Linked DNA regions of Homo sapiens. The protein of the gene in region 1 purifies or fractionates together with the protein of each later gene. This does not show direct contact. Each region holds a gene or a part of one and is shown in the gene's direction. Other genes may lie near its edges. The genes, in order: CTPS1, SUGP1, CPSF3, PUS7, NMD3, NRBP1 and KLC1.

What was found.
Region 2: the proteins of CTPS1 (region 1) and SUGP1 purify together in Homo sapiens (affinity purification with mass spectrometry; one large-scale study listed by BioGRID and IntAct). This does not show direct contact.
Region 3: the proteins of CTPS1 (region 1) and CPSF3 fractionate together in Homo sapiens (co-fractionation; one large-scale study listed by BioGRID). This does not show direct contact.
Region 4: the proteins of CTPS1 (region 1) and PUS7 fractionate together in Homo sapiens (co-fractionation; one large-scale study listed by BioGRID). This does not show direct contact.
Region 5: the proteins of CTPS1 (region 1) and NMD3 fractionate together in Homo sapiens (co-fractionation; one large-scale study listed by BioGRID). This does not show direct contact.
Region 6: the proteins of CTPS1 (region 1) and NRBP1 fractionate together in Homo sapiens (co-fractionation; one large-scale study listed by BioGRID). This does not show direct contact.
Region 7: the proteins of CTPS1 (region 1) and KLC1 fractionate together in Homo sapiens (co-fractionation; one large-scale study listed by BioGRID). This does not show direct contact.

What each region holds. Positions count from the first base shown.
Region 1 is NC_000001.11:41,007,196-41,010,695, forward strand, and holds part of CTPS1 (CTP synthase 1), read left to right. Parts: intron 1-253; coding exon 254-350; intron 351-1,463; coding exon 1,464-1,519; exon of another isoform or gene 1,520-1,598; coding exon 1,599-1,695; exon of another isoform or gene 1,696-1,700; intron 1,701-2,249; coding exon 2,250-2,394; intron 2,395-2,965; coding exon 2,966-3,050; 3' UTR 3,051-3,059; exon of another isoform or gene 3,060-3,063; intron 3,064-3,500. UniProt on the Homo sapiens protein: This enzyme is involved in the de novo synthesis of CTP, a precursor of DNA, RNA and phospholipids. Catalyzes the ATP-dependent amination of UTP to CTP with either L-glutamine or ammonia as a source of nitrogen.
Region 2 is NC_000019.10:19,296,510-19,300,009, reverse strand, and holds part of SUGP1 (SURP and G-patch domain-containing protein 1), read left to right. Parts: intron 1-2,665; coding exon 2,666-3,021; intron 3,022-3,500.
Region 3 is NC_000002.12:9,468,654-9,471,127, forward strand, and holds part of CPSF3 (cleavage and polyadenylation specificity factor subunit 3), read left to right. Parts: intron 1-2,474. UniProt on the Homo sapiens protein: Component of the cleavage and polyadenylation specificity factor (CPSF) complex that plays a key role in pre-mRNA 3'-end formation, recognizing the AAUAAA signal sequence and interacting with poly(A) polymerase and other factors to bring about cleavage and poly(A) addition.
Region 4 is NC_000007.14:105,456,272-105,459,771, reverse strand, and holds the end of PUS7 (pseudouridylate synthase 7 homolog), read left to right. Parts: intron 1-512; coding exon 513-604; intron 605-1,845; coding exon 1,846-1,982; 3' UTR 1,983-3,269; downstream 3,270-3,500. UniProt on the Homo sapiens protein: Pseudouridylate synthase that catalyzes pseudouridylation of RNAs.
Region 5 is NC_000003.12:161,248,811-161,252,310, forward strand, and holds the end of NMD3 (60S ribosomal export protein NMD3), read left to right. Parts: intron 1-643; coding exon 644-750; intron 751-1,445; coding exon 1,446-1,516; intron 1,517-1,969; coding exon 1,970-2,100; 3' UTR 2,101-3,497; downstream 3,498-3,500. UniProt on the Homo sapiens protein: Acts as an adapter for the XPO1/CRM1-mediated export of the 60S ribosomal subunit.
Region 6 is NC_000002.12:27,435,131-27,438,630, forward strand, and holds part of NRBP1 (nuclear receptor-binding protein), read left to right. Parts: intron 1-2; coding exon 3-97; intron 98-592; coding exon of another isoform or gene 593-616; intron 617-1,622; coding exon 1,623-1,706; intron 1,707-1,916; coding exon 1,917-1,975; intron 1,976-2,131; coding exon 2,132-2,230; intron 2,231-3,500. UniProt on the Homo sapiens protein: Required for embryonic development. Plays a role in intestinal epithelial cell fate and proliferation, thereby involved in the architectural development of the intestine potentially via the regulation of Wnt-responsive genes.
Region 7 is NC_000014.9:103,667,211-103,670,710, forward strand, and holds part of KLC1 (kinesin light chain 1), read left to right. Parts: intron 1-2,300; coding exon 2,301-2,388; intron 2,389-2,971; coding exon 2,972-3,073; intron 3,074-3,500. UniProt on the Homo sapiens protein: Kinesin is a microtubule-associated force-producing protein that may play a role in organelle transport. The light chain may function in coupling of cargo to the heavy chain or in the modulation of its ATPase activity.

The sequences.
Region 1 (3,500 bases):
GGACTAGCCTGAGGAGGGGCTGCTGTGGTCCTGTCTGCAGATCAGGAGGACAGGCTGAAGGACGGAGCCTCCACCCAACCGAGGTTACAAATGCCAACTGGGAGGCATTTTCTTCTGTGACAAAATGTCTCATAAGGAAAGCCTGGAGAATTAGAGCTTACTTACAAGCCTTTGCCACCCACTCAGCGAGGGAGGTTTCTCTCTAGCGGAAGCAGAGTTCTGTAGTTGGTGTCTGTTTTCTGAACATCTCCAGGTCGTAGACATGCCAGAACACAACCCAGGGCAGATGGGCGGAACCATGAGGCTGGGCAAGAGGAGAACCCTGTTCCAGACCAAGAACTCAGTCATGAGTAAGAGCTGCCTCACGCTGGCCCAGCCTTTGGCTCTGCGTGCCCAGGACGCGTGTCTTAGGGTGATGCTGTGGCTTCGAGGAGCAGGCTGGCTTTTTTTGGTTTCGTTCTTGCTTTTGAAGTTCATTCTTTCCTCTCTTATTCATACCCTTTTAGGATGCACTGTGATAGCCATAGAAGCAGTGTGGGTCTTAGAAAGGACACTGGCAGTGCAGTCAGACTCCTAGGCATGGGCGCCTCAACAGAATGAGGCAGTGAGGTTACATTCATCCTTATCGGTTACTTTCCTATTAAGACCAGCCATATCAATTGCTGATGTTTGGCAATTTTTGTCACACAAAGATGGCAATTTCATATGATTCAGCCTAAGTAGATTCTGTTCTAATAAAGTACTAATAGATGCTGAAGGTTTAGGGTAGTTTTCGGAGGAAAATAGTTAAGAAAATGACTATTACACAGATTTCCTTCTTGTCTACTGGGAAAATTCTGCCTTTACTGTATTAGCAGAGGCACCCTTGTGTCTGTCTGGGCGTTCTGTAGCAGCATAGCTGGAGTCACTTGAGTATCGGATCTTTCTCTTACCAACTCTGATGTTCTGTGGATTTGGGGATCTCGAGGCAACTGTGAAATGAGTCAGTAGAGCAGCCCGTTCGCAAATGTCCAGCTTGTTCACATGCAGCCACTGAGGGCTGATGACCTTTGATGACCATGATTGGAACTGAATGATCATCAGAGGTCATCTGTGCAGCTCTTAAAATGCCTCCCATCCTGCCACGTTCCCAGGGCCTTGCCGTTTCGTACATCCTGATTTGCTTTCCAAGGCAGTTTTCTAGCAGCAAAGTGCCCATACTTTGCAATCATGTGTTTGAGGGTGGTGGTGAGAGTCTTGTTTCTGTTACAGCTTTCTGTAGTGTTGTCAGAAAGAGTCAAAAGCCCAAGAATTAGTCTAAACTGTGTTGTTAAGAGCAGGTGACCTTAGCAGATTCATAGAAATAGCCCTCAAAAGACCTGGCTGTGTGGATGATGAAAAGTAAAGCAGGAAGGAGGATGTCTTTGTGAACGCATCATCCTGTGAGATAAAGTTCTTTACATACAGCCCGTTTGTTTTGCCAGGGAAACTCTATGGAGACGCAGACTACTTGGAAGAGAGGCACCGCCACCGATTTGAGGTGAGGATTCCAGCTTGCTGGTACTCTGGAAAGATAGTGAGCTGAGAGACCAGCAGAATTATTTTTCATGCCTCAACAGGTGAATCCAGTCTGGAAAAAGTGTTTGGAAGAACAAGGCTTGAAGTTTGTTGGCCAAGATGTTGAAGGAGAGAGAATGGAAATTGTGGAGTTAGAAGGTGATTATTCGGGCAGTTTTATTTAATGGAAAACTTAGTAAAGTTTTCTTGGCATATGGGAAAATATAAAAATGTTATCTTGTTGCTCCTGACCTAACAGAATTAGGAAGCAGCACTGTCTCATGAGGGAAGGGGTCTTGATAAACATGGGGTCTGGACTCTAGAAACTTCTTTCTGGTACATGGCCTTCCTCGGGGAGCCATTTAACTTCTGGCCGCAGTTTCTCCTTCTCCAAAATGCTTGGAGTTGGTACTAAAGCCACTTCAGCCCTCTCCTGAACCGCAAGACTCAGTCTACAGAAATCCTGGGAGCCAGGGTCTTGGGCGGGACCCTGGACAGGAGGCCTTCAGCCAGGAGGGGACAGCACAAACCGTGCTGAGAAAGGGTATCAGATCACTCATGCTTTGAGGTTCCCTTTATCTAGATTCAAATGAGAAAGTCATTTTCAAATTATTTTAGGGCCTATGGAAACAAACATTTAAGCAGATTTTGTTCTTTTACACTTTGTGCATAACCTTCACAATGAAGCTGTTTCTTTTGAATCTCTATTTCAGATCATCCCTTTTTTGTTGGGGTTCAGTACCACCCTGAGTTCCTGTCCAGGCCTATCAAGCCCTCCCCACCATACTTTGGCCTCCTCCTGGCCTCTGTGGGGCGGCTCTCACATTACCTCCAGAAAGGCTGCAGGCTCTCACCCAGGTAGGCGCACTCTTTGCTTCAGTAATCCATTAGTCTTCTCTAGTCCTTTAGGTGGTCGCTGATTCATTACAGCAACACGTCACAGTCAGTCATAAGAAAAAAAAGCCACAGGCGCCTGGGGTGAAAGTTTCCTCTCCTTTCCCGGAGCTTTCTCACGGTGTTTCCCTGGCATATTGGCCAGGTCCCCCTTTCTGCAGCATCTGAGCTCTGGTGGTGCTGACCAGATCACACTTGGCGTAGGACCCTCTGGTCCATGTTAAGGGGAACTAGTTTTTCCTGGGAAGTAAGCCACAATGGGTAGGTTTATGTCCCATTGCCACCTTTATCCAGAACCAGTACTCAGAGTTGGTGGTAGGGTGTGTGACTGAAGTATAAATGGAATGTATATCTTTTGTAGCTAGAAGAAGGAAATCTTTCTGCAGTTTCATGTTAAATATATTATGTAGCAAACAGTCTTTGTGATTCCTGCCATGTGCAGGCAAGTGTCCCTGTAGGAACCGTGGTTACAAAAACAGGGACGTAAAGTGAGTTTTTGGTGGGAGATGATGCGTAAACCATCTGAATTCTACAGGGACACCTATAGTGACAGGAGTGGAAGCAGCTCCCCTGACTCTGAAATCACCGAACTGAAGTTTCCATCAATAAATCATGACTGATCTTGTAGCGTAAGTGGTACTTTAAAGTTTTAGTTTTTAAAAACATGGTGATAACACACTGCGATTGCAAGAATATCATGGAAGTTTAGGGCTGAAAATTTTTATCTGCCAGGAATGAAAGTGGTGAGGTCTTGAATATAATCCAGAGGTTGAGAGAGAAAAGAAAGTAGTGAGGTCATTGTGGGTATCAAATGGGCAGCCCTTCCTCCAAGTTGCAGTGCACCTCCCAGTCCTGCCCTGGGGATGACAGCTTGGGGAGCATGGTCACTGGGCAGTTGTCTCAATACTGATTACTACATTCTGGTGCCAGTCTGACCAGTTCTGGGGCGGGGAAGGGGAGGGTCTGAATTCTTAGACCCTATTGTTTGATGTAGCTGTAAATTTTGGAGATCTTGAAGGAAGGGACAGATACAACAATGTGGCACTTGTCATTTCTGCAGAGCCTCAGGT
Region 2 (3,500 bases), on another chromosome or scaffold:
GGTCGAGAGTTCAAGAACAGCCTGACCAACGTGGAGAAACCCCGTCTCTACTAAAAATACAAAATTAGCGCATGCCTGCAATCTCAGCTACTTGGGAGGCTGAGGCAGGAGAATGGCTTGAACCCGGCAGGCGGAGGTTGCGGTGAGCCAAGATTGCACCACTGCACTCCAGCCTGGGCAACAAGAGTGAAACTCCATCTTGAAAAACAAAACAAAAAAAAAATGAAAAGCTGGAAACGCCCATCCCTTGGACTAGTCATTCTCCCATTTCTGAGATACATCCTGGAAATCATGTCAATAGAGCATCAGCTGTAATGAAAAGTCAGTAGGCCGGGTGCGGTGGCTCATGCCTGTAATCCCAGCACTTTGGGAGGCTGAGCGGGGTGGATCACGAGGTCAGGAGATCGAGACCATCCTGGCTAACACAGTGAAACCCCGTCTCTACTAAAAAATACAAAAAAAAAAAAAAATTAGCCGGGTGTGGTGGCGGGCGTCTGTAGTCCCAGCTAGTCAGGAGGCTGAAGCAGGAGAATTGCCTGAACCCGGGAGGCGGAGCTTGCAGTGAGCTGAGATTGTGCCACTGCACTCCAGCCTGGGCGACAGAGCAAGACTCCGTCTCAGAAAAAAAAAGGAAGAAAAAAAAGAAAAGTCAGTGACACAGTCAGCGTCCAACCTCTGTGGGTTAAATCATCAGCACATCTCCCCAGTGGAGTATGCCGCCTTCAGAAGGCACCCATGTGAGCTGGCAGCCCAGTGTGAGGGAACTGAAGCAAGGCCAGTCAGTGAACATGCTTCCACTGTTCTAATAGGAAAGGCTTATGTCATCAGCTTGAGGCAGAAATTTTTTTTAAAACTGGGATATGTATAGGATCACAGCTCTATTAAGATAAATCTTTGCTGAAACTGGCAGGAAACACCTTAACAGTGGTTATCCCTGGGTTCAGGGTGGGATTAGTTCCACCAGAGGGGAACCTTGGTGGTGCACCCAGCCGTGTTCTAGATGGGGTGTTGGGGGGCTCCACTTTCTCCCCCTCATGGGGGTCTACCATTGAGTGCCATTGTAACCCCCTCCCCGAGATGGGCAGACCCTCCAGGGGACTGTGATGCATCCTTGGACCATCCTGGAGGACACTCAGGGTGAAGCACCAGCTGAGACCAGGAAGGGGCCCCCACACCCCGATGCCTGCTCGCCCTAGCAAGTGAGCCTCCCCAGCTTGGCCTCTCAAATCCATGTCTGAACTCACCCGGCTGTCAAGTGTCTTTTCCAAATCTGACCAACTGTTCCCTTCTCTCCTGAACAGTTGTTGCTTTTACCTCTTAATCTTTGCATATGTTCCTCACTGGGTCACACGTGTACCATGACCCAGGATTACAGAGAAGATGCTGTCATCTCCTGTCCTTCTGTCCCACCCTCTTGAGGTACCGGATGTTAGCAGGGCCGTAGACACACAGGCTCACCTAGAAACTGTCTAAGGGGTCTCTTGCTGCTCGCTCACTATTTATCTTATTTTTTTGAGATGGAGTCTCACTCTGGTCCAGGCTGGAGTGCAGTGGCCCAGTCTTGGCTCACTGCAACCTCCGCCTCCCAGGTTCGCGTGATTGTCCTGCCTCAGCCTCCCGAGCAGTTGGGACTACAGGCGTGTACCACCACGCCCAGCTAATTTTTTTATTTTTAGTACAGACGGGATTTCACCATGTCGGCCAGGCTGGTCTCGAACTCCTGACCTCAGGTGATCTGCCCGCCTCGGCCTCCCAAAGAGCTGGGATTACAGGCGTGAGCCACCGCGCCCGGCCTCTGTAACACAAAGGGACTTCACAGCATCCTTGACCCTTTAATTCACATTAGTTGCACGCCTTGGTGCTATGACCATCCCTCCAGATTCACAAGTGCAGGTCCAGCCCCATCTTGTTCAGCACTGTAACATGCTTTCAGGGCTGTACATGCATTCAGTTCTCTCCCGTGTTCTGCCATGTGGAGCTGGGCCAAGACTCTCCCTTTTGGCATAGACCCCAAAGACAGTCCTGTGGACTGGGGATGTGTACGGTCCGAGAGGCGCCAGTAGGTGCGGAACATGGCTCTGAACCCAGCGCCACCTGCTGTGCTCCTCAGGCTGGGTAGGGACAGAGAAGACCTGTGCTCCCAGCCTCACTGGAAGCCACACTTCCCTGAGGCTGCCTGCCCCCACGTGGGGTAGAAATCAGCTCCTTGGTCCGTTCTGATGTTCATTGTCTCAAAGATGCATTTGAGAAGCCCTTGGGATCAAGACAAGTCCCTCTGCCCTGTCTCGTGTCTGGTGTCTCCCCACAATCTGAGATTTTTTGGTGTGAATGTCTCACTTTTCCCAGGCCCTGGGGAAGGGTCTGAGGGTCCCTGCCCTTTCCCTTTGTAGCAGGGTGAACAATGACAGTGTGATGGGTGCCTGATAAAGACAGGGTGAGGATTGGAGTGACTCAGTTCAAAGGAAGGGCATCGGGCCACCAGAACCAGCAGTCACTGCCAGGAGGCCTGGCAGGGCAGGAGGTCATGGTGGAGACCGTGACTATGACATGACCATATAGTGACCCTGGCCAACGTGGGCACACAAGGCCAGAACTGCTCCTGCCCAGAATCAGGGACAGGGCCTCGGGCCCAGCTGACACTGCACCCCCCAACTCTCCTTTGCAGCTTTCTGTATGAGCCCAATAGCCAAGGGTACAAGTACTACCGACAGAAGCTGGAGGAGTTCCGGAAAGCCAAGGCCAGCTCCACAGGCAGCTTCACAGCACCTGATCCCGGCCTGAAGCGCAAGTCCCCTCCTGAGGCCCTGTCAGGGTCCTTACCCCCAGCCACCACCTGCCCCGCCTCGTCCACGCCTGCGCCCACTATCATCCCTGCTCCAGCTGCCCCCGGGAAGCCAGCCTCCGCAGCCACCGTGAAGAGGAAGCGGAAGAGCCGGTGGGGGCCTGAAGAGGATAAGGTAGAGCTCCCACCTGCTGAACTGGTGCAGAGGGACGTGGATGCCTCTCCCTCGCCTCTGTCAGGTGGGCAGACCCTCTCCCCCTCCCTGTGTTGGAAGGGTCTGACTTCTTTCACTGAGCATAATGTCTTCAAGGTTCATCCACAGTGTAGCTTGTATCAGAATTTCATTCCTTCTGTGGCCATATCTTCCACTGTGTGTACATACCACATTTGGCTTACCCACTCATCTGTGAATGAACTCTTATATTCACAGAGGTTGTTTACACTGCTTGGCTGTTGTGAATAATACTGCTGTGACTATCTGAATCGTTTTCAGTTCTCTTGTCGGTATACCTAGGTGTGGAATTGCTGGGCCTATTGCAATTCTGCCTTTTTTTTCTTTTTTCTTTTTTCTTTTTTTTTTTGAGACAGAGTCTCGCTCTGTTGCCCAGGCTGGAGTGCAGTGGTGCGATTTCAGCTCACCATAAGCTCTGCCTCCTGGGTTCACACCATTCTCCTGCCTCAGCCTCCTGAGTAGCTGGGACTACAGGTGCCCGCCACC
Region 3 (2,474 bases), on another chromosome or scaffold:
TCTCACTCTGTCGCCCAGGCTGGAGTGCAGTGGCACAATCTCAGCTCACTGCAACCTCCACCTCTCGGGTTCAAGCGATTCTCCTGCCTCAACCTCCCGAGCAAGTGGGACTATAGGCGCATGCCCACCACACCCAGCTAATTTTTGTATTTTTAGTAGGGACAGGGTTTCACCATATTGGCCAGGCTGGTCACGAACTCCTGACCTCATGAGCCACCTGCCTTGGTCTCCCAAAGTGCTGGGATTAGAGGTGTGAACCCCCGTGCCCGGCCCACTAAAGCAGCAGTTTAGTGGCTTTAAAAAAAAATGATAGACTTTAAATGATGACTTTGTTTATAGAAGTTGTCATACATCTTCAAAACAGTATTCTCTGTGTTGTCATTTTGATTTTAAAGAGCATTCCTCATACAAAACCAGCCAACAGTGCAGGCACAGTGATTACCATGGCCGTTGAAAAGGCCAGAGATTTTACTGGTTCCCACCCCTGGAGCCTCTGGTTCTCTTAACTCATTTTGCAGAGGGCTCAAGTCTGCCAGCGTTGAAGTCTGAGTATCTTAATCATTTTTAGATCCTTCACCCCTTTGGCAGTCAGGTAAGGCTGTGGGGCGGGGGCAGGGGACACACATATATGCAGTTTTACCTTTGATTTCAAGGAGGTTAGACAACCCCCTCCCCACAGGCTATCCTGGGACCCCCGGTTAAACAGCCCTATTGTAGAAGGTGGGTGTTGCTGACCAGGGACTTGACTACAATAGTTCTGTTGGCGGCCCTGTTCCCTGGGGCTCTACAAGAATAGAAAACCCGTGTGGCCCTGGACTGGCCCCGCTCTCCCACGTGCTGCAGTCGGGGTGCAGAATGGAAGTTCACATTGCTGTGGCTGGTCCTCAGGAGCCGTGGGGAGGGCAGTCTGCGGGAGGCTGCGGCCCTTCCACTGGACTTTCACTCTGGCCTTCTTCCCTGTCCTCCTGACACCACTCCTCCCGCCTCCCCTCCCTCTCCCTCACCTCCCACAAACACACCAGAACTATTCAACTCTGAGGAACAGGAGTATGAGACAGCTTCCATTCGGCCAGGAATGGGAGGTTCCCATGTCCTTAAACTTCAAAGCCAATCGTACCCTTAAAAATGCAGCTATTTCCCCAGTTGTTTAAACACTTAGGATTAGATAGGAGTAGATGTATTGGTTTCTTCAGAGAAGCCAACAGTGGATCACATGAAAATGGAACCTTTTTTCCTATCCTTTTGAATACATTTCTGTGTTTAAAATATAATTTTTTTGGCTGGGTGTGGTGACCCACACCTGTAATCCCAGCACTTTGGGAAGCCAAGGCAGGTGGATCACTTGAGGTTAGGGGTTCGAGACCAGCCTGGCCAACATGGCAAAACCCCATCCAAAATACCCCTACTAAAAATACAAAAATGAGCCAGGTGTGGTGGTGGGTGCTTGTAATCCCAACTACTCAGGAGGCTGAGGGAGGAGAATTGCTTAAACCAGGAGGCAGAGGTTGCAGTGGGCCGAGATCGGGACACTGCACTCCAGCCTGGGCAACAAGCAAGACTCCGTCTCAAAATAAATAAATAAAATAAAATATAATCTTTTCCTTTGTGCTAGGGTCCCACCTAAGTTTATTCACACATATGATGAGCAGTAACTGCCTGAAGATGCAAGGAGTTGATTCCCACTCCCCACTTCCCCCGCTTAATACAGTGTTGTCAGTGCTTAACTGTCCTAGGCTGACCATGGTCCATGGGTTGTTTAGAGTCACTGCCTGCCTTTCTTACCTGCATTCAGCCTGCTGGTGGACTGCTGTTTCCTAACACCTCTGTACCAATGGGGACGATGTTGAAATTAACCATCAAAACTGTTTCTCTCGATGACAGAGGCAATGTCTTAGTGCCTTCTTTATCCCCAGCTACTAGCACAGAAGGAATCTGCCACACAGAAGATGCTCAATAAATACCAAGTTTAATTAAAGTAGGAGTGCACAGCTAGTGGGCTTGGGAGCCATTTAAACCTAGATACCTGGATTTGAATGCCGGCTCAGCTGTTTACTAGCTGTGAGGCTTTAAGCAAATCACTTAACTTCTGTGTCTTGTTTTCTTCACATGTAAAAGGGGATCCTTACTAAAATTATAGGTTAAGATAATGTATATAAACCACCTAGCATGATGCCTGCTGAATAGATCATTCTTGAATAAAGCTGTGTATTTTCCCTGTTTTATAAACTTAATAAGCTGTATCAAGGCAAATAAGAAGCTTGTCTCAAAAGTAAATACAGGCTGGGCATGGTGACTCCTGCCTGTAATCCCAACACTTTGGGAGGCCAAGGCAGGTGGATCACTTGAGGCTAGGAGTTCAAGACCAGCCTGGCCAACATGGTGAAACCCTGACTCTACTAAAAATACAAAAATTAGCTGGCTGTGGTGGTGCACACCTGTAATCCCAGCTACTAGGGAGGCTGAGGCAGGAGAAT
Region 4 (3,500 bases), on another chromosome or scaffold:
TAACTAATAGAATATAATTGGATTGAGCCTATTATATTCAGGCACAGTGGCTCACGTTATAATCCCAGCAGTTGGGGAGACTGTGGCGGGTGGATCACCTGAGGTCAGGAGTTTGAGACCTCCCTGGCCAACATAGTGAAACCCCATCTCTACTAAAAATACAAAAATTAGCCAGGCATGGTGGCAGACACCTATAGTCCCAGCTACTTGTGAGACTGAGGCAGGAGAATTGATTGAACCCAGGAGGCAGAGGTTGCAGTGAGCCAAGATCACACCACTGCACTCCAGCCTAGGTGACAGAGTTGAGACTCCATCTCAAAAAAAAAAAAAAATTATATATATAAGCAAAACTTAGGTATAAAATCTGGCCCTGCTATATTATTCAAGATTCCTAACTATAATTATTTACAGTAAACTTACTTGTTTTTCTTGCTAAATAAATGATGATGAGTGGCTTAGTACCTTTTATGAAAGTTCACATTCACACTTATCTTTATTCATATGTTTTGAAGGGAAGTCGTTGCATATGATGATCCCAAAATTCCACTTTTCAACACAGATGTGGACAACCTAGAAGGGAAGACACCACCAGTTTTTGCTTCTGGTAAGTTTACTCAGTCATCAGCTCTGTGTTGACTTTGAAATGTTTTGTTAAACAAAAACATAATTTTTTTTTGAAAACTGCTCTTACAAGCACTACCACCACCCATGATTTCATTGTTGTGTTTTATGACCTTACTTTCACAATTATGGCTGAAAGTTAGTGATTAAAACCAGTAAATCCTCCTGAAAATAAGTGCATGTTATAGATGGTTGTGATATTAGGTGATGGAGTATTTCTCCCCATCCCCCACAGAGACTTACCAAAGGTGAGTGAAAATTCAGGAAGAGTCTAAAAAATTAAATTGGTTGGGCAGGTGCGGTGGCTCACGCTTGTAATCCCAGCACTTTGGGAGGCCGAGGCGGGCGGATCACGAGGTCAGGAGATCGAGACCACGGTGAAACCCCGTCTCTACTAAAAATACAAAAAATTAGCCGGGTGTGGTGGCGGGTTCCTGTAGTCCCAGCTACTTGGAGAGGCTGAGGCAGGAGAATGGTGTGAACACAGAAGGCGGAGCTTGTAGTGAGCCAAGATCACGCCACTGCACTCCAGCCTGGGTGACAAAACGAGACTCCATCTCAAAAAAAAAAAAAAAAAAATTGGTGGCTGGGCGTGGTGGCTCACACCTGTAATCCCAGCAGTTTGGGAGACCGAGACAAGTGGATCACTTGAGGTCAGGAGTTCCAGACCAGCCTGGCCAACATGACAAAACCCCGTCTCTACTGAAAATACAAAAAAAAAAATTAGGCGGGCGTGGTGGTGGGCACCTGTAATCCCAGCTACTCAGGAGGCTGAGGCAGGAGAATCGCTTCAACCCGGGAGGTGGAGGCTGCAGTGAGCTGAGATTACACCACTGCACTCCAGTCTGGGCAACATAACAAGACTCTGTCTCAAAAAAAAATTAATTAATTAATTAAATTGGCATTCTCATCATCAAATTCTTGTTCTGTTTTTTCCCAGGCCGTAATTTATTATTATTTCTTTAACTTTACATGCGTTTCTCTTTTGTGTTCTTCTGTCATCTGCCTTTTTGTGAAAGTTCCTGGGCAGAATTTCTGTAACCATTCAGCAGGTTCACACTCACAGATCTCTTACTTCCATGGTCTCATTCTCCAAGGCCCCCTAGGAAGTGGAGTCTAAGGAAAGCAGCACAGTTCTTTGTATTTGCTTAGAGATTATGTGACTCTCGCTGGTCTGTCTGCAGCTGCCTTCATTTTCTGACTGTTTTCTTTCTTGCCTTGCAGAAGGCAAATACAGGGCTCTGAAAATGGATTTTTCTCTACCCCCTTCTACTTACGCCACCATGGCCATTCGAGAAGTGCTAAAAATGGATACCAGTATCAAGAACCAGACGCAGCTGAATACAACCTGGCTTCGCTGAGCAGTACCTTGTCCACAGATTAGAAAACGTACACAAGTGTTTGCTTCCTGGCTCCCTGTGCATTTTTGTCTTAGTTCAGACTCATATATGGATTTCAAATCTTTGTAATAAAAATTATTTGTATTTTTAAGTTTTTATTAGCTTAAAGAAATAATTTGCAATATTTGTACATGTACACAAATCCTGAGGTTCTTAATTTTAGCTCAGAATATAAATTAGTCAAAATACACTTCAGGTGCTTAAATCAGAGTAAAATGTCAGCTTTACAATAATAAAAAAAGGACTTTGGTTTAAAGTAGCAGGTTTAGGTTTTGCTACATTCTCAAAAGACAGCAGGAGTATTTGACACATCTGTGATGGAGTATACAACAATGCATTTTAAGAGCAAATGCAACAAAACAAATCTGGACTATGGATAAATAATTTGAGAGCTGCCACCCACAAATATAAATACAGTACTCATGCTGACTGAAATAATAAGACATCTACAAATTTATAAACAAAAAGTGATTGTCATTATCCTGCTTATGTACTAGATTCAGGCAAGCATTATAGACTTTTTGGTTGCGGTGGCTTTTGCATTTATATTATCAATGCCTTGCAGGAACGTTGCATTGATAGGCCCATTTTATTTTTTTATTTTTTTTTTCGAGACAGGATCTCACTCTGTAGCACAGGCTGGATTGCAGTGCAATCCTGCAATTCTCAATCTTGCACTGCAGCCTCGACCTCCCAGGCTCCAGTGACTCTCCCACCTCAGCCTCCTAAGTAGCTGGGAGTACAGGCGCGCACCACCACGCCTAGCTGATTTTTGTATTTTTTTGTAGAGACGGGGGTTTGGCCATGTTGCCGAGGCTAACTCCTGGGATTACAGGCATGAGCTGTGCTGGCCGGGTTTTTTTTTCTTGATGTAAACGTGTACAGCTGTTTTATTAGTTAAGGTCTAATTTTTACTCTAGGTGCCTTTTATGTTCAGAACTCTTTCCACTGGACTGGTATTTGCTCAAAAATAAATAATGGTAGAGAAGAAAACTATAAAAATGGACAAGGCTTTCTTCTATCAGTAGCGTTTACCCTTTGTCACCAGTGGCTTTGGTATTTCCATGTCTGGCATTGCATAAACTTCTCTGGTGTGAAAGGATAAATATGCCTTTCTAAAGTTGTATATCAAAATTGTATCAATTTTTATTTTCTATGATTTCTAGAAACAAATGTAATAAATATTTTTAAAATCTCCTTTCTACTGGTTATGTAAATAAATCAAATAAATATATCAAAATGAGTGCAGATAAGAATCTTGACCTTGACTAAAGGTAAGGAACTAAATGAATGTGGGATCCTCATCAGAAATGGTGGTGACACCAAAATGTGTTGTGATCAGCTGTGAAGTATGAGGATAATCTGAGTCAAATGCTACGAATAATTGACTGTGTTGGACTGGACTCCAGGTTATTGGAATCACTCACTCACCTTCCAATGTGCTTTATGGAGTAGAAAAGAAAGGAATGGAAAAGAGCT
Region 5 (3,500 bases), on another chromosome or scaffold:
CTTTAGCAGTGAGCAAAAAAAGTAGAGCCATGACAAATCAAGGACTCCGACCACCTGCCCAGTTGTACTTTTATTAGTTGATAAATTAGGAATTAACAGCGTGGTTGGAGTGTAAGTCTAAATAGGTATTTCTAACAAGGTCATAAGAGGAGATCATGGCAATCTTACAATATTTTGTATTTTGTAAAATTATTTTCATTCTATAATTTATTAAACAAGCGTTCTAAGATACATTGTTGTGAAAGTTATATATAGTTCTGTAAATGCTTATTGGTGGGTATAAGAGAAAAAAAGTATCTACTTGTGATATTCAGAATGATTTATATGAATGGTAGCTGAAAACTGAAGTTTGAGTTAAAAGAAAACTACAGTTTTTGTTATTAAGAAAAACAGTATTCAGTCACTGAAAAATTTTAGCAAATTTTAACAATTGTACAAATAATGCTTGAATCCATTCTCATAAAAAGTTAAATACATGGAGAAAAATTTTAAAAGTCCTCTTGACACTGTCTCTCCATCCCTTCTCCTTTCTCCTGAGGTGTAACCAGTGTCATTAGTTTGGTCATTTTTTAGCTTTATTGAATTTTGTGGCCTCACTGTATAGTTCCCATTCTTTGTAACTTTACAAATATTTATCTTGCAGGTATTAATCAAGAAGAGCTATGACCGGACCAAACGTCAGCGTCGTAGAAACTGGAAATTGAAAGAGCTTGCAAGAGAGAGAGAAAACATGGATACAGATGATGAAAGGTCTCGCTTTTCTTTAAATCTCTTATGTTGTCTCAAAGGAAATATTTATGATAAATACTTTTTATGTTGTAAAGAAATAGGCATCACACAATTGATCCTTGCACTCAATTATAATCTTGGATTCTTATCAAGGTATTAATGGAATCAGTATAAGATGATGTAAAGACATTTAACACAGATTTAGTAATTATTTCCTGGTTTATGACCTAATAATTGTAGTGTTAATGTAAACAATTCATTTGAAAAGTTAAAATATAATCATACTTTGCTTAACAATGGGCATACCTTCTGAGAAATGCATCATTAGGTGATTTTGTTGTGTGAGCATCATAGAATATGTGGCACATGACTTTATAATAAATAATTACATTATGAATATCACAAATAGCAGATGAGTACTTATGGCTTGAGATAAAAAGGAAACAGCTCATTGATGCCAAGTGTGTTATTCCTCAAATAATTTAAGCAGAAATGAAGACAGTGTTCTAAAACAGTTTATTGGATGATTCAAAAAGTGGCTTTAATGATGGTGAAGACACCGATGTCTAAAAAAACTGAGAGTTTATATAAAATTGTTTCATGAAATGTGAGTTGGAAACAGCAGTATGTCTACATAGTCCTTAAAATGAAAGTCCTTAAATGAAGAAAATATAACTATATTTTTGGTGATGAAATATTTAAATGTTTATTTAAAGGCAATACCAAGATTTTCTTGAAGATCTTGAAGAAGATGAGGCAATTCGAAAAAATGTCAACATTTACAGAGGTTGGTGTTCTAGGAGTGTTTAAGTCATTTGTTCTGTATATAAGTATAGTTCCTAGTATGAATATTTTGGTATCTTAAGCTTTGATTCTCATAAATGTCTTTAATTGTTTTTTCAACTACTCTAGTCACACTTCTACAAAAAAACTTGCAAAACAATAAATAAAACTTAACAAAATACTGTTTTGTATATTACAGTTAGTATTATTTGCATTCTAGCTTGATCCCTTAAGTTGCTCACTCCTATAGTGGTGGAAGTATATTCTTACAGTTACTCAGTTCATTTGTTCAGTGAATGTAATTTGAATGACTGCTGTAAGAGACAAGAGCTTCTGATACAATGTAGTTACATAATAATAATGATAAGGTAGATATTTGTATATTTTCAAATATATTTAATACTTTGTATACATATAAATACTTTGTATTTATTTTATTCTCTTTGTATTTTTTTAGATTCAGCCATCCCTGTGGAAAGTGACACCGATGATGAAGGAGCACCTCGAATTAGTCTGGCTGAGATGCTTGAAGACCTTCATATTTCCCAAGATGCCACTGGTGAAGAAGGTGCATCAATGCTGACATAATGAGATGTTGTAGACTGTTTCCATACATGGGCTTAAGAAGTTGGACAGAGTTACCTTAAGTGTCTCTACTATCTTTGCCTCCAGATTTCAAGAGGAGAAATTTAGTTTTAAACCTGAATAAACATGTTTGTTTTCAGTGCTCACTCAAACCACTAAAACAGATGGATAGCTTTGAGGTTTTAGATAAGGAAAGATTATGGAGAATGTAGTTGTTATTGATTTTTGGCAATTTTACATTTGGAATTTTATCACTGTGCTTTTTTATATGAGGCACTGTAGTATTTTCACATAGTATAGTACTCTGGATGTAAAAGCTCAAAAATTGTGATTCCTTGAACGTTCACTAAATCTTCAAGCAAAAACACATTTTTACATTATTTTTACGTTGATTATTTTAGTGAAAGACCATATGAAGAAGCATTTTTAATATTAACTTGTTACATACTTTGATCCACTTTACATCATTTTTATGTTGTTGAGGTAGGGAAATTAGGGTTCAGTTTATCACTGGACATTCAGGAGGCAAGTCAATCTTTTTTATTTCCTTATAAAATTAACTCTTCAAAAGCCGTTAAACAGAGAGTTATCTTAATTTTTATTGCAGTAGGAGGAAATATATTTAAAATATTTGTAGATTTATAGCAAATAGAGACTCGTTATTTAAAGGTTAAATAACAATTTGTTCTTTTGTTGTTTTTGCCAGTTTAGGGCAGTAGCTGCTTTTGTCATAAATATCTTCCTACCACATCAAAAATGCTGCTTTTAAAATTTTTGTTTATAAATTGAGAAGGAATTTTCTCTCTATAAGTTTCTGTCATTGAACAGATCACCATTAAAAAGAATATTAGAATCCAGCATGAAGATAATGGCTAATAAAAATGAGGTACATACTTTATAAAACCATTAATCAGATTTGAATGAGGAATGCTTCCCACATCCTTGAAAGAAAAACTGTGGCTTACGTTTTGAAGTATTCTGAGAATGAAGTATTAAGATCCAATTTCTATAAGCAAGATCAGACTTGTTAAGTATGCCGCAAGTAAGAGCTAATTCATTCATTCCATGTGTGCCACTAAATAAAGAGATTGAGCAAGTGCCACTGTGTGGAACATTTTTCTTTTTTTTAATATTGGACTTTCCAATTTTGAAATTATGGATAAAGTCCTAAATTTTCTATAGTGGCTTCTTTTCTGTCTGCATATTTTGTTAAAATTGTGGATCTAAAAGCCATATCCTGTCTTTGGTGGTGGCCTGGTAGGAATGGCTTGTCCTAGTTCTTCAAAGGTAAGATTGACCAAAGCAAGTTCTCATTGGTGGTCTGTGTTTACATCTTCCGTGTCAAGATATTTTAAAGCATGAAAATAAAGCCATTCTTGCCCTTTTTCGTGTGTTTGAAATGG
Region 6 (3,500 bases), on another chromosome or scaffold:
AGCTACCTGCACTCCTGTGACCCCCCCATCATCCATGGGAACCTGACCTGTGACACCATCTTCATCCAGCACAACGGACTCATCAAGATTGGCTCTGGTGAGGGGAGGGAGAGGTTCTGGGCAGGGGAGCCTCGGGAATTTGGGAACCATGGGGGTAAGATGAAAGGAATGGGGGATAACAGAGCAAAATTCTGAGGTGTGGGCTGGTGAGAAGAGAAAGGACCTTGCTAGGAGTAATTAATAGGAGAGGCCAGTTAATTAGTGGAGAGGGGGTAGGATATATAATCTTACACCTTTTTGAAGGGAAAATTGGGGTTAATACAGAGATACTGATAAGAGGCTGGGAAAGGGCAAGAGATAGGTTTGAGGTTTGATTTGAGTCCTGGGGCCAGACCCTGCCAGAGGAGGTTCCAGGCTGTTCCTGCTGTGAGTGCTTTCGTTTGCTGTGTATTGTATGCAGTGTACAACATTTCTGTGTGCTGTGTCTGTGTGGTATTTGTGTGTCCATTTGTCTGGGGCTTGGCTGCTCCATCGCTCACAACTTTTCTCTGTTTTCCTCCCTCCCGCTTACGGGCTGCTCTGTTCCCAACAGTCTTTCATAGGATTTTTGCTAATGGTGAGAGCTCCCTCTGCCCCACTTGGGGCTCTGTTTGTGCTCCCTCTGCTCCCTTGGCGGCTGCCCAGTGCATGCAGTCGTGGGAGCAAACCCTCTTCCCCTATCTTCCCTGCCTAATTATGCCTGCTTAGCTTCTGCCCTGCCAGCCCTCCGCCTGCTTGCCCCTTCATAACCTGCTTGTTTCCTGTGGATTCTGCCTGGCTGGCCACTTACCTCCTGGATTCATGTTCTCCCTCATCATCAGGCTAGTTCCCAGATCATACTGTGCTCCCAGATTCTCTGTGACTTGTAGTCATTGTTTATGATCTGAGTGAGTCCAAATTGGGCCTGGTCCTGGTTCCTCGTTCAGCTCTGTGGCAGACAGTGTTGAGGAATAAGGGGGTAGAACAGGAGTCTAAAATGTTTTGGTGGATTAAAAGTGGAACAGATTCAAGGGTATTAGCTCAATTCTGAGCTGTTTTGAGTTTCACTCAGCAAAGGTGGGTAAGAAGGAGGCTACCTCCTGAGCTGTATGTTAATACTTCTTATCCTTATTTATCCAAGTTCCTGAGGTCTCCAATTGTCCCAGATTAGGAAGGGCTGCCTGTGTTTTTATGTTATTTGCAGGGTGGATGAAAAAACTAAAACCAAATATTTTCATGTGAGCAGGGATTAGAGGTACCTGGGATTTAGGGAAGGTGAACGCAGTACAAGTGAAAATTTTTCCTTAAACTTCATTGCTTCTAGACCAGCCTGAAGCCCCTGTGTATCTGTTAATTTAGTCTGGTGCTTTTGTTGCTCCTGATTTAGGGACATTAGATGAGAAGCAGTAGGCCTAAGAAAGGGGAGGTAGGTGGCATCCATGTGTGGTCTGTAGTTCAGGACAGGAAAGGGAATATGTTTGTGCCTGTTGAGGGTCATCAGAAAGGAGACTTCAGGAGAGAATTTGGCTTTTGGGGCCTCTCTCTGGAGTGAGACTATTCTTCATTGATGATGGTCAGATTGTGGGTGTCTCCCCTACTCCCAGTGGCTCCTGACACTATCAACAATCATGTGAAGACTTGTCGAGAAGAGCAGAAGAATCTACACTTCTTTGCACCAGAGTATGGAGGTGAGCCTTCCTGCTTTCTCTGCCCTGTCCTCATCCCCCTGCTTTTGCACCTTATAACTTGAGGTACAGAGGCAATATAACTGAAACTTCTAGGCCTTCTCTACCAGCATACAAAATATTTTTCTTTTCTTTTTTTTTTTTCCTAAGGCATTCCTGCCAACCCTAGCCCCCAATCCTCTGATTAACCAAAGCCTTCTCTGTTTTCCCTAGAAGTCACTAATGTGACAACAGCAGTGGACATCTACTCCTTTGGCATGTGTGCACTGGAGGTGAGGGGACTGGAGGGGAGGGGGGAAAGGGGTCAGATGAGAAGATGGAATTGGGAATGGAGGGAAGACAAGTAAGGCGCTGGCTTGGAGGGAGTGATTGTGGGAGCACTGAAGTTCTTAGGTGTCTACTTTTTTTTTTATTCTTCCTCACTGAAGATGGCAGTGCTGGAGATTCAGGGCAATGGAGAGTCCTCATATGTGCCACAGGAAGCCATCAGCAGTGCCATCCAGCTTCTAGAAGACCCATTACAGAGGGTAAGGATCTTCAGGATCACTCCCTCCTCAACTGACCTTCAAATGTCTTCTGGTTTTTCTTCCTTTGTACCCACTGGGTATATGCTCCTAAGAGCTAGGGAACATAACAGAAAGGACACGAAAAATCTATAAACATTTTCTTAGGAGGTGCCTACCATGTTTTTGCATAGAAACACACAGGTAAGGGGGTTAAGATGGATGATGCTGGGGTTAAAAGTTGTGTGTTGGAAGCCGGGCATGGTGGCTCACGCCTGTAATCCCAGCACTTTGGGAGGCCGAGGCGGGCGGATCACGAGGTCAGGGGATCGAGACCATCCTGGCTAACATGGTGAAACCCTGTCTCTACTAAAAATACAAAAAAAATTAGCCAGGCTTGGTGGCGGGAGCCTGTAGTCCCAGCTACTCAGGAGGCTGAGGCAGGAGAATGGCATGAACCCGGGAGGCAAAGCTTGCAGTGAGCTGAGATCGCGCCACTGCACTCCAGCCTGGGCGACACAGGTAGACTCCGTCTCAGAAAAAAAGAAAAAAAAAAAAGTTGTGTGTTGGCTGGGTGCAGTGGCTCACACCTGTAATCCCAGCACTTTGAGAGGCTGAGGCGGGTGGATCACTTGAGGTCAGGAGTTTGAGACCAGCCTGGCCAACATGGTGAAACCCTGTCTCTACTAAAAATACAAAAATTAGCTGGGCATGGTGGTGTGTGCCTGTAGTCTCACCTACTCGGGAGGCTGAGGCAAGCTTGAACCCGGGAGGCGGAGATTGCAGTGAGCTGAGATTGGGCCACTGCACTCCAGCTGGGGCAAGAGAGCGAGACTGTCTCAAAAAAAAAAAAAAAGTATGTTAATTTGAATGTGTCTACATGGAGGTAAATTAATTTGATGGTTACTTCAGGCCATTGCTGTATACTCTCAGACAGCCATTTTTATATTTTTAAGCACATCAGTCAATTTAAATTAAACCAGTTGTTTGGGATTTTATATTTATACAGTTTTAGTTAGGGACGGTGGCCTGAAATAATGAGCTAAGATTTAAAAGACATAAGGTTATGAATCAGTTGATAGACTATAGTAAGCAGAGCCTGGGCAGGAAGGTCCAAACAAGAACAGTTTGTAACTCATTAGATAAGTATAGTAGGGAACAGGAGAGAAAAGAAGACTAGTGGGAAGTCAGGAGGATAGTGTGGAGTAAGTTTCTACTTCAACATTGAGGTGGAGTATTCAAGTGAAAGATTAGGTATGTGACCTTGTTAGCCTTCAAGGTTAAAAGCAGGAAA
Region 7 (3,500 bases), on another chromosome or scaffold:
AAGCGATTCTTCTGCCTCAGGCTCCCGAGTAGCTGGGATTACAGGTGCCTGCCACCACACCCAGCTAATTTTTGTATTTTTAGTAGAGACAGGGTCTTGCTATGTTGGTTGATCTTGAACTCCTGACCTCGGGTGATCTACCCGCCTCAGCCTCCCAGAGTGCTGGGATTACAGGCGTGAGCCACCGTGCCCAGCCTTGGTAGCTTATTTTTAAATTGCATTTGCTACAATTCTCCTGCCTCAGCCTCCCGAGTAGCTGGGACTACAGGTGCATGTCGCCAGGCCTGGCTAATTTTTTGTATTTTAGTAGAGATGGGGTTTCACTGTGTTGCCCAGGCTTGTCTTGAACTCCTGAGCTCAGGCAGTCTGCCCGCCTCAGCCTCCCAAAGTGCTAGGATTGCAGGTGTGAGCCACCGCACCTGGCCACTACTTTTTGGAACTCTATTTTGTACTTGCTGACTTTCACAAAAAGTTTGAGGCAGCTTACAATAGGATGTAATAGGATGAAAGAAGAAACAACAATATATTAATACGTGGCCAGAATTAGTGTGCTTCAGAGGTTGTAGAAGCCTTATTAACCTTTCTCACGTTTTTCAGGGGAAAGCCTTGCCAGGCAGTTACTACTACTCAATTGAGAAAGATGTGTGCTAAGTCTCAAAAGCAAGTACTTGTTCTCAGTCACATCAGTAGTGAGTAGCACGCTTAAACTGAGAGTTTCTGGTTCTGGGGTGTTTCTGTTTTACTCCAATCAAGAAAGATTCTTCGTTCCTCCATACTCAACAAAATGGAGGGAGACTGGGTACCAAGTTCAGACACAACAATATATTTACTTTTGTTTGTTGTTTTTTAAAATATTTTTTCAGTATACATGTAGCATATCATCTTCTTACAGCAAGACTGTGCAATAGATCATATACTTGCTTTGTAGATGGGAAGGCTGGGACTGCGTGAGGTCACGTAATGCACCCAAAGCCATGTAGCCATTAACTGGTAGAGCCCAAGCTCAGACACTAGAATTAATTCTGTCTGAAACCAAATGCAAGCTTGGTCCATTGTTCTAGACTGTTGCACTTATTCTGTGCTGGCCAGCTGGCATAGGCAGGACAACACTGTAGTGTGGGGACATTATCTTCCCAGTGGCCTAGATGGGAAGGTTAAGTTCAGAAGCTAGTTGGGTCTGATTCCAGAGTTCACCTTGCCAGTCCATTTATTGGTGGATTTCCTTCCAGTGTTTTTTCCCCATCCATAAGCTTGTGGTTTTTCTTTTTTCTTTTTTTTTTCTTTTGAGACGGAGTCTTGCTCTGTCACCCAGGCTTTAGTGCAGTGGCGCGATCTATGCTCACTGCAAGCTCCGCCTCCCGGGTTCACATCATTCTCCTGCCTTAGCGTCCCCAGCAGCTGGGACAACAGGCGCATGCTGCCATGCCCGGCTATTTTTTTTTGTATTTTTAGTAGAGACAGGGTTTCACTGTGTTAGCAAGGATGGTCTCGATCTTCTGACCTCGTGATCCGCCCGCCTCAGCCTCCCAAAGTGTTGGGATTACAGGCGTGAGCCACCACACCCATCTTTTTATTTATTTATTTTTTGAGACAGTCTCACTCTGTCGCCTAGGCTGGAGTGCAGTGGCACGATCTCTGCTCACTGCAAGCTCCACCTCCCAGGTTCACGCCATTCTCCTGCCTCAGCCTCCCGAGTAGCTGGGACTAAAGCCGCCTGCTACCACACCCGGCTAATTTTTTTGTATTTTTAGTAGCGATGGGGTTTCACCATGTTAGCCAGGATGGTCTCGATCTCCTGACCTCGTGATCTGCCCGCCTCAGCCTCCCAAAGTGCTGAGATTACAGGCATGAGCCACTGCACCCGGCCCTGTGGTTTTTCTTAAATAGTTTAAGCTTAACTTTTATTTCTGTAGTTGAAAATTACATTTAAAAAAGCTGTAGTGAGGCCGGGCACGATGGCTCATGCCTGTAACCCCAGCACTTTGGGAGGCCTAGGCGGGTGGATCATGAGGTCAGGAGTTTGAGACCACCCTGGCCAACATGGTGAAATCCCGTCTCTACTAAAAATACAAAAATTAGCCGGGCGTGGTGACAGATGCCTGTAATCCCAGCTACTCAGGAGGCTGAGGCAGAGAATTGCTTGAACCCGTGAGGCGGAGGTTGCAGTGAGCCAAGATGGCACCACTGCACTCCAACCTGTGCAACAGAGTCAGACTCTGTCTAAAAAAAAAGAAAAGAAAAGAAAAGAAAAGCTGTAGTGATCTACATCTGAAACACTTAATGTGTGTTTTTCCATTTAGGGATCAGAATAAATACAAAGATGCAGCTAACCTACTGAATGATGCCTTGGCTATTCGTGAGAAAACTTTGGGCAAAGATCATCCTGCGGTTTGTATATCCAGTTCTTTCATTCTTTTAATATTTTATTTTCCCCATATATTTCTTTTATCCAACTCATTTTACCATTAAACTCAACAGGGAAAGTTTAAGTGCTGCCTTTTCCCTAGATGGTGCAGGTAGGAGGTCTTCACTTACTCAGTGCTAGTGACAGGCCAGAGCACACTTAATTTGTTTATGACCCCACCTCAAATGGATCACCAACTGTATTGTTTGATTGTAAATCAAATTGCATGTCCTTCTAGAAATTTTTTTCTGAAAATTATATTGTCTTCATTAAAATCTGGTCAGATTTGCATATGAATCTGTTTTGGTTGGCTTTGTGGCTTCCAGGGAAATTTTTAAAAAGTCAGGAATACGTTGTTGATTTGTTTAATTTTAGTATTCTGCAGTGTTACTTTGTATAATCTATACTCTAGTGAATTGCGCTTTTCATTTTAACTGAAGTCATATTGTTCTATCCGACTAAGAATGCTTTACTGTATAGATTGAATATAAATGAATATGTGGTGTATAAATGTACTCTTATTTGGTTATCTTTTACCATTCTTAGTGGTTCTCTCTGTGTTGACAGGTGGCGGCGACTTTGAATAACCTTGCAGTCCTTTATGGTAAAAGAGGGAAGTACAAAGAAGCAGAGCCGTTGTGTAAAAGAGCTCTGGAAATCCGAGAAAAGGTACAAAAGAAGGGGGCAGTCGTTTTCTTTGAGATTTTTGTTTTGTGTGTGTGTGGTTTTTTTTTTTTTTTTGAGATGGAGTCTCGTTCTGTCACCGGGCTGGAGTGCGGTGGCGTGATCTCGGCTCACTGCAACCCCCACCTCCATGGTTCAGGTGATTCTTCTGCCTCGGCCTTCCAAGTAGCTGGGACTACAGGGACACACCACCACGTCCACCTAATTTTTGTATTTGTAGTAGAGATGGGGTTTCACCATGTTGGCCAGGATGTTCTCAATCTCTTGACCTCCTGATCCGCCCGCCTTGGCCTCCCAAAGTGCTGGGATTACAGGCTGAGCCACTGTGCCCGGCGCTGTTTTTTGTGTTTTTAAAAATTTTTCGGTTTTAGGTTTTGAGAAATAACCACTGTGATGTGTTTTTAACTGACTA